2 separate regions of the Homo sapiens genome follow, and region 2 is linked to region 1. Evidence: fine-mapped expression QTL. Tissue or cell type: whole blood. Region 1 holds a variant in brackets; the other region holds the start of a gene. All regions are shown on one strand. Distances are from middle to middle.

Region 1 (5,319 bases):
GAGAATCGCTTGAACCCAGGAGGCAGAGGTTGCGGTGAGCCAACATTGCACCATGACACTACAGCCTGGGCAACAAGAGCGAAACTCCATCTCAAAACAAAAACAAAAAACCAGCATGATTTCAAGAGCAGAAAGAGAAGAGCTTAAAAACCAGCATAATGAGAAAGTTAGGAAGTTTCTTACCAAAGCATCTGGAAATATGCAAGCAATTCTTGTGAAGTAAAATTTTCATACTGTGCTATGAAACACTGGAACTCACTTATTCCATCTTTCTGTATTTTGGGACCCAATTATCCACTTGTCTTCATTCCCTATCGCACCCCTTTTCTTCCTAGCGTCTGCTGATCACCTTTATACTTTCCACCTTCCTGAGATTCCTTTTGTGTGTAGGTGTGTGATGGAGTCTCTTTCTGTTACCCAGGTTGGAGTACACAGGCACAATCAGGGCTCACTGCAAGCTCCACCTCCCAAGTTCAAGCGCTTCTTGGGCCTCAGCCCTCTGAGTAGCTGAGACTACAGGCACGCGTCACCACGCCCGGCTCATTGTTTGTGTTTTCCGTAGAGACAGGGTTTCACCATGTTGGCCAAGCTGATCTCGAACTCCTGGACTCAAGTGATCCGTGCGACTCGGCCTCCTAGAGTGCTGGGATTACAGGCCTGAGCCACAACACCTGGCCAAGGTTTCCTTTTTTCTTCTTACATAGAAGTGAGGACATGAAATATTTGTCATTCTGTGCCTGGCTTCTTTCATTTAATATACAGACCTGCAATCTCATCCATTTTGTCTGCAGCGGAGAGGAGTTTCTTCCTTTTTCGGCTGAATAATACTTCACTGGGTGTGTATACCACAGTTTCTTCATTGAAACAAATTTCTGAAGAGCAAATATTTTTAAAATGTCTCAGAATGTGAAACCTCAGGGATACTGTGTCCATTTTATTCTTTTCTATTTCCTATCTTATGTATATGCAAGTGTATAACAAAGCAGCAATCAATGTGTGTATAAATCTACAACTTCAACAAATGTAAAATGTAAATGCTAAGTGGTGGCTGGGCGCAGTCGCTCATGCCTGTAATCCCAGCACTTTGGGAGGCGGAAGCGGGCGGATCACCTGAGGTCGGGAGTTCAAGACCAGCCTGACCAAAATGGAGAAACACTGTCTCTATTAACAATATAAAAAAAAAAAAAAATTAGCCAGGCATGGTAGCGCATGCCTGTAATCCCAGGTACTTGGAAGGCTGAGACAGGAGAATTGCTCGAATACGGGAGGCAGAGGCTGCAGTGAGCCGAGACCGTGCCATTGAACTCCAGCCTGGGCAACAAGAGTGAAAATCTGACTCAAAAAATAAGGAAAAGAAAGAAATAGAAAATGCGAAATGGTAAGAAACAACAACATAATAAACATTTGTATGGTGTTGATGGACAATGCATTTGAAGATAATATTTGAAGAAATCATATTACAATTAATTTCTGTTCTTACTCATTGGAGCTTGATGCCTCTAAAAACTTCGTCATTGGAACCACCTCTGGTGCTTTAAAAGAAAAAAAAAAAAATCCACATACTCACACAGGTGCAAGGAAATCAGAATCTCAGGTATTGAGACCCAGGCCTCATCATTTGTAAGCTCCCCAGGTGATTTGACTCAAAGCCAAGATTGAGGAATGGCGACATGGATCTCTACACAGAACCTGCCTAAATAGATTCTCTAGAAGCAGTTTATAAAGATATTCCACGTGGACTGTGGAAGAGGATATGAATTTGATGTACAGCATGTCCTCACTTAACATCTTTGAAAGTCTCTTGGAAACTTCACCTTTAAGCAAAATTATGTATAGTGAAACCACTTATTTTTCATCAACAGTATAACTACACATCTTTGAACAACTGATGGTGTTGGAGGACCTCCTGTACATTGTTTCCATAAAGTCAGTTTTCAGGGAATTCCAAAAGGAAGTGAGGACTTCGTGTATATAAAAAGATGGTTGTGATTCCACCTGGATGACAGGGTTATTGCTCAGAAACTAAAAGAGGCCACCTAGGTATAGAGGATTCTGTCATGAGGTTTCTGCTAAACAAAGGGTCCCAGAATCCTCACCCATTCCAGTGAAAGGCATAGCGAAGAAAGCAATATTCACAAAGGAAATG[T/C]GGAAAGGAATAAAAGCCATCAAGCCACAGAAAGAATGTGACTAAGGGGCAGGATTTGCAGATGTAGAGATTTAATGTGGTTGCCCTTTCTCACCCACACAAGAGAAAGGATGGAACAAATCATGAGATTCGACTGTTGTGCTGTGCAGCCTCCACAGGGCACTTTGTATGTTCCTGTTTCTCAGGCTGTAGATGAAAAGGTTCAGCATGGGGGTGACCACAGCATACATCACTGATGCCACCACACCATTCCTGGGGGGTTGTGACACAGCTGAAGTCAGGTACATGCCAATGCCTGTTCCATAAAATCAGCAAACAACGGCTAGGTGAGAGCCACAGGTGGAGAAGGCTTTATACTTCCCATCTGACGATGAAATCCTTAGAATGGAGGGGATGATTTTATAGTAAGACCATAGGATCCCTGAAATGGGAAGAAAACCAAACATAGTACTATCGAAATATATGAATATGCTATTGATGACGCTGTCAGAACAGGCAAGTTTGAGAAGTTGAGAGGGGTCACAGACAAAATTAGAGATTTCCAAATTCTAGACGATGGTGAATTGTAACACAATCCAACTGTGCAGCTGGGAATCCAACAGGCTAAGGAAAAAGGACACCAAAACGAAGACACAGAGGTGAGGATTCACGATGACTGGGTAGTGCAGAGGGCGACAGATGGCTACAAAGCAGTCATAGGCCATCACAGTCAGGAGCATGCCTTCTATACATGCAAAAAGGACCAAGAAAGACATCTGCGTCAGACAGCCCGCATGAGACGTGACTCTGCTATGCGACTGCATGTCCACAATCATCTTGGGAACCGTGGCGGAGGTGAAACCGATGTCAGCCCAGCACAGGTTGGAGAGGAAGAAGTACCTGGGGGTGTGGAGGGGGGAGTCAGAGCAGACAGCCAGGATGCTGAGCAGGTTCCTCAGCACCGTGACCAGATACATGGACAGGGACAGGGACAGCAAAGCGAGGATAGGCTGCAGTTCTGGGTCCTCTGAGAGTCCCAGGAGGAGGAATTCTCAGACACCTGTGAGATTCCGTGGCTCTGTGTGTCTTGGACACCTTGAGAAGGAAAGAGGATTGGAAAAATAGCAGATAAAAACCAGCCCTTAATGCTGGATGCAAGCAATTCACAAGGAACATCTTCACACTTGCGGACCATACACCGCCAGCAATGTTTCTCAGTTGTGACAATTCCAAAAAATCTCAGAATTATTACGTGATTTACTTTTTTGCTATACAAGGCTTTCTGTACATACTACTTTAGAGAAAATCCACTGAAGAATATCAGAGACCAAAACGTTATATATAACAAATCCGTGATCTCAGTAAAATACGGCCTACTCTTTTCAGAAAAAATACAATGCAATGACAATGTCCTTTCTCTTGAAGAAAAAGATCTCAGTCTAATTGAAAGAAATTAAGAAGCCGTGAAATGCACTCTACTTTATTCTGACCCCGTGCTACAACTTCCATTGATGTAGAATATGTAAAAGGACGACACAAGAGCTAGGACCCCATTATCTGAAAACGACATCGAACCTTATAGTTCTCAATCGAAAGATTTTCACATGCCTGTTACTTTTCATATTTATTATCATCCTTCGGTTTTCTGACATCACTTCTTCATAAAAGTACATGCACGCTCAAAGATGGGAGCTGTGTTTCCAAATGAATTGAATCTATAACTCTTGGCCCAGCACCATGGCTCACACCTGTAATCCCAGCACTTTGGGTAGCCGAGGCTGATGGATCACCTGAGGTCAGGAGTTCCAGACCAGCCTGGCCAACGTGGTGAAACCCCGTCTCCAGTGAAAATAAAAAAACATTAGCCGGGTGTGGTGGCGGGTAACCCTAGCTACTCGGGAGGCTGAAGCAGGAGAATCCCTTAGAACCTGGAAGGCAGAGATTGGAAACCCTGTGATAGGATTTTTGACAGCCTAGGGAGATATTGCACCTGACAGCAGAGTCGGCGTACACCCTGTGATATTATTTGTAATATCCTAGAAAGATATTTCTCCTAATATCACAGTGGCTGTACACCCTGTGATCTTAATTGTAATATCCTACAGAGATATTACTCCCAATAATACAGTGGGTGTACACCCTGTGATATTATTCATAATATATTACAGAGATACGACTCCTGATATCACAGTGAGTGTACACCATGTTTGTACACCCTGTGATCTTATTTGTAACAACTTAGAAAAATATTACAGCTAATATCAAAATGGGTGTGCACCCTGCGATGTTATTTGTTTTCTACTAGGTAGATATTACTCCTAATATCACAGTGAGTGTACACCATGTGTGTGCAGACTGTGAAATTATTCATAATACTCTAGGAAGATATTATTCCTCATATCACAGTGGGTGTACACCGTGAGTGATTTTTTTTCTAATATCCAGCGGGGGAGAGGATGATATTGCTTCCAATATCACGGAAGGTGTACACCCCGTTGTGATATTGTTCCTAATATCCAGGGAAGGAGAGGATGACATTATTCCCAATATCACTGGGGGTGTACCACCTCCCTCCGGGATATTGTTCTTATTGTCAGTAGGTGGAGAGAATGATGTTACTCCCAATATCACAGGGGGTGTACACCACCCCTGTCTGTAAACACCCCCTGTGATATTGTACCAAATGGCCTGTGAAAGAGTCAATATTACTCCCATTATCGCAGGGGTGTTCAGACCTGATGATATTGTTTTCTAACATCCAGGGAAGGAGAGTATGCTATTATTCCCAATATAGCAGGGGTTGTACACCTTTTTGTGTTATTGGGCCCAATATCCAGGAAAATAGAAGATGATAGTACTCCCAATATTGAAATAATTGTACAGCACCCTTGTGATATTCTTCCTAATATCCAGAAAGGAAAAGAATGATATTACTCCCAACAGCGTAGGAAATGTATACCCGCTCTGTGATATCTTTCCCCATATCCAGGTGGGGAGAGGATCATATTACTTCCAATATCGCAGGGTGTGTACACCCCCTCTGTGATCTCGTTGCTAACATCCAGGTTTGGGGAGGATGACATGACTCCCAATATCTCAGGGGGAGTTCACCCCCCATGACCTTGTTTGTCATTTCCTTGGTGGAGAGGATGATATTACTCCCAATATCGCAGGGGGTGTACACACCCCTGTGA
Region 2 (5,163 bases), 29 kb after region 1:
TGGCTCACACCTGTAATCCCAACACTTTGTGGGGCTGGGGCGGGTGAATTTGAGACTGGCCTGAGCAACATAGCAACTCCCCATCGCTACAAATACTTTAAAAATCAGCCAGATGTGATGGCGTGCGCCTGTAGGCCCAGCTACTCGGGAGGCTGAGGTGGGAGGATTGCTTGAGCCCAGTGTGTGGGGGTTGAGGAGGCAGTGAGCTGTGTTCGTGCCACTGCACTCTAACCTGGGTGACAGAGTGAGACTCTGTCTCAAATAATAATAATAATAAAATAAATAAACACATAATTTAAAAAAAAAAAACAAGGAAACAGATGTAAGCACAGAAGGAACTGCAGTGTCCAATTCCAAGCCACTGTTCAGTGCCACCGTATCTGCAGAAGATGCTACCATTGCAAAGTCGTAACTGTGAAGGCTGTAGAGTAGGCTAAGATATGCTCAGTGAAAAGAAGGAAGCAAGCTCTGGGCACTGTGGCTCATGCCTGTAATCCCAGCACTTTGGGAGGCCAAGGCAGGAGAATCACTTGAGGTCAGGAGTTTAAGACCAGCCTGGTCAACATAGTGAAACCCCATCTCTACTAAAAGTACAAAAATTAACCGGGTGGCAGGCGCCTGTAATCCCAGCTACTCAGGGTGCTGAAGTAGGAGAATCGCTTGAGCCTGGGAGGCAGAGGTTGCAGTGAGCCGAGATCACACCACTGCACTGCAGTCTAGGTGACAGAGCAAGTATCTGTCTCAAAAAAAAAAAAGTAAGCAAGCAAAAGCAAACATAGCCCGCTTGCATACACACACACACACACACACACACACACACACACACGGGCACGTCCACACACGTGCTCTGGGGACAAGGATGTGAATGTAATCCATGCATGCTGGTGGGACAGCATGGGTAGCCGATTTCCTGGAGGGCTTAGATGGGGTTTCTTTTTTATGATTTCAGTTATTCTAATCCTGCCTGTGCAACGGGAGATGTTTTAAATTTTCAAATTTTTGTTTAAATGGAGTTTTCTCTTGTTGTTTTGTTTGTTTGTTTGTTTTAAAGATGAGGGAGCTCAAATTCACCTAATTTGTCCACTGGTCTCCAGGTCCCATCAGGGAGGGCACTGTGGACCGGTGATGGGGAGGCTGAACCACATACCTCCAGGGCTCAGATCTGGGGGAGAGCTCTGGGGCACCTGCCCAGCCATGCCTGTCTGTGAGAAACACCCCCTCAGCACCAGTCACAGCGACTGGGCCAGGCATGGGTGCCTGGACTTTGCTGACCGATCAGAAACCCCTAACTCTACAGCCCCAACCCTGAAGGCCACAGTGGCTCTGGGAGGCCTCCAAGGAGGCCACGAGGAGGGTGCCACGTGAGGCCCAGGCAAGCTGGGAGGGAGCTCAGCCCGTGTGAATCTGTTGCTGGAAACCAAATGTGCCCTGAGGCAAAGTTCCTGTTTCCTTCCCCAAATCCGAGTTTCACCCCCTTCACTCTCAGGCTTCCGGGTAGAAAAAAACCTCTCCCTTGTTCCCTCGCCCCACAAACACCCCGGCAGATGGACACCTCCTGGCCCGCCGGCCTCTGTACCCCTCCGAAATGGGAGTACCGCAGCATCCCACAGGAGCAGCCGCGCCCACCTGATGAGCACAGGTGTGTAGAGCAGGGCGGCGATGGGAGTCACGTTGATGCCCATCAGCATTTTGCTGTCGATGTCGGGCAGCCCCATGTTGCCATACTTCACCTCGCGGTAGGTCTCGTCGTAGTGCAGGATCAGCTGCATCTGCAGGAGGCCTGGGGACAGGACAGAGAGCGGCGTGCAGGGAGCAGCCTAGCTTTGGGCGCCACCGAGCAGAAGACGGCATGCAGGCCTCGCAGGGAGCTCCAATCACCGAAGGCATTCCCGCTGACAGCGCCCCTCAGGACAGCGGGGTTCCCGGGCTGCGCCACGCCTTCTGCCAGCCCGCGGCCACTTGGCCAGCTAAGCCCAGACCCCCACCCGCCTTGCTCCGCCGGCCTCCAATTCTGACGGTGGCAGGTCTGTCCGGGAGCCCGGACCCCCGTCCCCCACCCACACCGAGGCTCTGGCTGGGACCCGGGGACGCTGCGCTACTTGACCCCCCAACCCCACCCCCGCCGCGGGGGGCCGTGGCTGCAGCTGCGAGGGCAGCGGAGGGGAAGTGAGAGCGGGCGGGAGGCGGCGGCCCGCGGTTTCTGTTTCCCGGGCCGGGCTGGGAGCGGGCGGGGCGGCCCCGGGTCCCCGAGCGGCACCTACCCAGGTAGACGCCGTAGGTGAGCATGCCCCCGGCGCTGGCAGCCAGCACGTTCTTGAGCACGCCCAGGCGCTTGCGGCGGTAGTAGCGGCGCTCCTCCTCCTCCTCGTTGTAGTTGGGGTACGCGCCCACCAGCTCGTCCAGCTGCGAGCCACGCACGCCGCTCGCACCCGCGATCGCGCCCCGAACCCGTGTCCCCCGGTGCCCGCCGCCCCCCGGCCCGCCCCGCCCCCGCCGGGGGGACCCTGGCCCACAGGGGACGCCCGCGCCTCGCACTCCGGGTCCCCGCTCACCGGGGCCTCGGGCCCGTCCGGGACCCCGAGCAGGTCCTCGTCGCCCTGCGGCCCCGCAGCCCCCGCCATCGGGTAGAGCGGCGGCTCCGCCTCCATGGCCCGAACTACTGCGGACTCGCGGCGGTCGCCCCGGAGTCCCTGCGACCGCCCGGCCACTTCCTCCCGGCGGCCGGGACCTGCCCCCGCCCCGCCCTGTCCCGCCCTGCGGGCCGCCTCCTCCAGGACACGTGTGTGTGTATGTGTGTGTGCGCGCGCGCGCGCGCGTGTGTGCAGGGGCCTGCCTGTGTGTGCCCTCTGGGGTGTGAGTTCGAATCCCCACTCAGCCACCTCCTGGCCCTGTGACTTTAGGAATTAACTCCATTTCTTTGTGCCTCGGTTTCCTCCGTTTCCTCGACGGTAAAACAGAAATACATGGCACTACCCCCGGGGCCATGGCGGAACTATTGAGTTAATGCAAAGCCTTGGAAAAGTGCCAGGGTTGCCTGGCTCCCTTAAGCTCCCCTCAGGGTTGCCTGGGTCGTCCCCAGCCCCACCTCCAAGCCTGCTGTTACAGCTCATCAAAGAGCACTGCAGGGACAGTAGCGTCACCACCTGGACCCCACCTCCCACCACCGGACGCTACAGCCAGAGCCCACCTCCCATGTCCCCATCCTGCTCCAGTTTGGGCTGTGCAAATGGGAGCTTGAGTGGGTCCTGGGAGGTGGAGATTGTGATCCCCACTGAACTACATGGGGGACCCTGCCACAACCATGTAGTGGGGCCCAGAGCCACCTGCCCCCATCCTGCTGGGCACTGGATCCCGGGCTGCAGCGGGAGCCTGTGGTGGGGCCGACACTCCAAAGCACTGGCTACCACCGACCTGGCTGGAGCCACGGGGCCACTTTTGAAAATATCCAGATTCTCTCCCCTGGGTTCCTTCTGGTTTGAATGCTCTTCCTGCTGCGCCTCCCAGGTGGCTTCCTTCCCACTCAGCTCTCAGAACAAGAGACCATCCCTGCAGAGAATGCAGTCCCTTCACTTCCCTTCTGGTTTTCCATGCCCTCCCTGTGCACCCCCCTCCACCCACTGCTCTTTAGGTACATCCTCTCCCAAATGCAGAGGATGGCATTGGGCACCTACTGAGTGATCAATACTTGTGACTGGATGGGTGCATGAGTGACTGGATGACAAACACCTCCCACCCCGCAAGGATTGCTGGGAAGGTGGGGGGAGGCGTGAATCTGCAGTGGCTTCAGGCTTCCAGGAGGTAGAACTTTCTCCAGGTGACGATGCCCAAGTGCAGATGTGGGGAACAGACAGGTGGATTCATGCAGGTGGGTGGCTGGAAGTGGGAGACAGGAAAGGAGCCGAAGAGAGGGCAGGGCCCGAGGCGCAGGGGCAGGGAGGAGGTGGGAGAGTATGGCTATGGCGGGGGCCGTTCTCAGATGGCAGACACCAGCATCATTACACAGTATGATGAGAAAGTGCAATTCTCCTGACTCAGCCTTGTGAGTAGCTGGAATTACAGGCGTGTGCCCCTACACCCAGCTGATTTTTGTATTTTTAGTAGAGATGGGGTTTCACCATATTGGCCCAGGCTGGTCTCGAACTCCTGACCTCAAGTGATGTACCCGCCTTAGCCCCCAAAGTGCTGGGAGTGGGCCCCCCGAGCTTCTCAATTTCCCTGAGGGACCCCAAACTTCTGGGGCCTGGTGCAATCTCTTCCTCCCCTTGTTCCTCTGGGCCTGGGGGTTGTGGCGGTTGCTATGGTTGCCCATCCTGGGCTCTTCCATCACCTGTGCTGTACCACCAATTCCCTGCACTCAATGTCTCCTACTCAAAACACCTGGAGAGGGTCGGGCGCTGTGGCTCACGCCTGCAATCCCAGCACTTTGGCTGGCCAAGGAGGATCACTTGAGCTCAGGAGTTCAAGACCAGCCTCAACAAAGTGAGACAAACCCCCCCCCCCAACCCATCTCTACAAAAAATACAAAAACTAGCCTGGTGTGATGGTGGACACCTGTAGCCCCAGCTACTCAGGAGGCTGAGGTGGGAGAATTGCTTGAGCCCAGGAGGATGAGGCTGCAGTGAGCTGAGATTGTGCCACTGCATTCCAGCGTGGGTGACAGAGTGAGACCTCTCAAACAAACAAACAAACAAAAAACAAAAAAAACAAAAAACAGCCCTGGAGGCACTAAACCCTGACTGATACACCTCCTCTCTCCAGAAAGGATTTTTTTTTTTAGGTGGTTTATGGAGCTGCTCTTGGGGAGCCTGGAGACTATCTAAGAGGCTGATAGGGTGGCCCAGATAAACACACCAGGGTGACCTGCGGGACAGAGATCTGAGCAGGGCCAGCACCTCCACCAACCCATCCAGGTTGCAACAGTGCACAGTCACATCCCCAGGAAGGGGTGGCCAGATCCCCCCGTGCTCACTGTTTGCCAATGCTTTTCTCTATAATAAGCCTTTACTTTCAGTTCTCATTATGAAAATAATCGATGTTCCTTGCAGAAAAGCAAGCAGAAGAGAATAAATATTGCTCTCAACTGGAACTCCCTGAAACAACCTCTTGGAATATTGTTGCCCCGCATTGCACTGACACAGGAGCGTGCTGGGCAGCCCACGTGAT

The links. PIP is the estimated chance that this variant, and not a neighbour inherited with it, causes the effect.
Region 2: it holds the start of UNC93B1, and the variant in region 1 is the best candidate, but not a certain one, in a credible set for the expression of UNC93B1 in whole blood (INTERVAL, PIP 0.61).

The regions. Positions count from the first base shown.
Region 1 is chr11:67,971,994-67,977,312 of GRCh38, forward strand. It overlaps the pseudogene OR7E1P. Among named protein-coding and RNA genes, the nearest start is that of UNC93B1, 29 kb to the right of the region's middle. RefSeq lists an enhancer at 72-572. The variant T/C (reference allele first, on the strand shown) is at 2,147.
Region 2 is chr11:68,001,396-68,006,558 of GRCh38, forward strand. UNC93B1 (unc-93B1 regulator of TLR signaling) reads right to left here and starts at 2,702. Exons shown (of 11, transcript NM_030930.4): 1 at 2,553-2,702; 2 at 2,262-2,403; 3 at 1,627-1,780. The coding sequence starts at 2,648. RefSeq lists enhancers at 1,255-1,454, 1,555-1,604, 1,705-1,754, 2,659-3,202, 3,203-3,745 and silencers at 2,055-2,464, 2,525-2,824.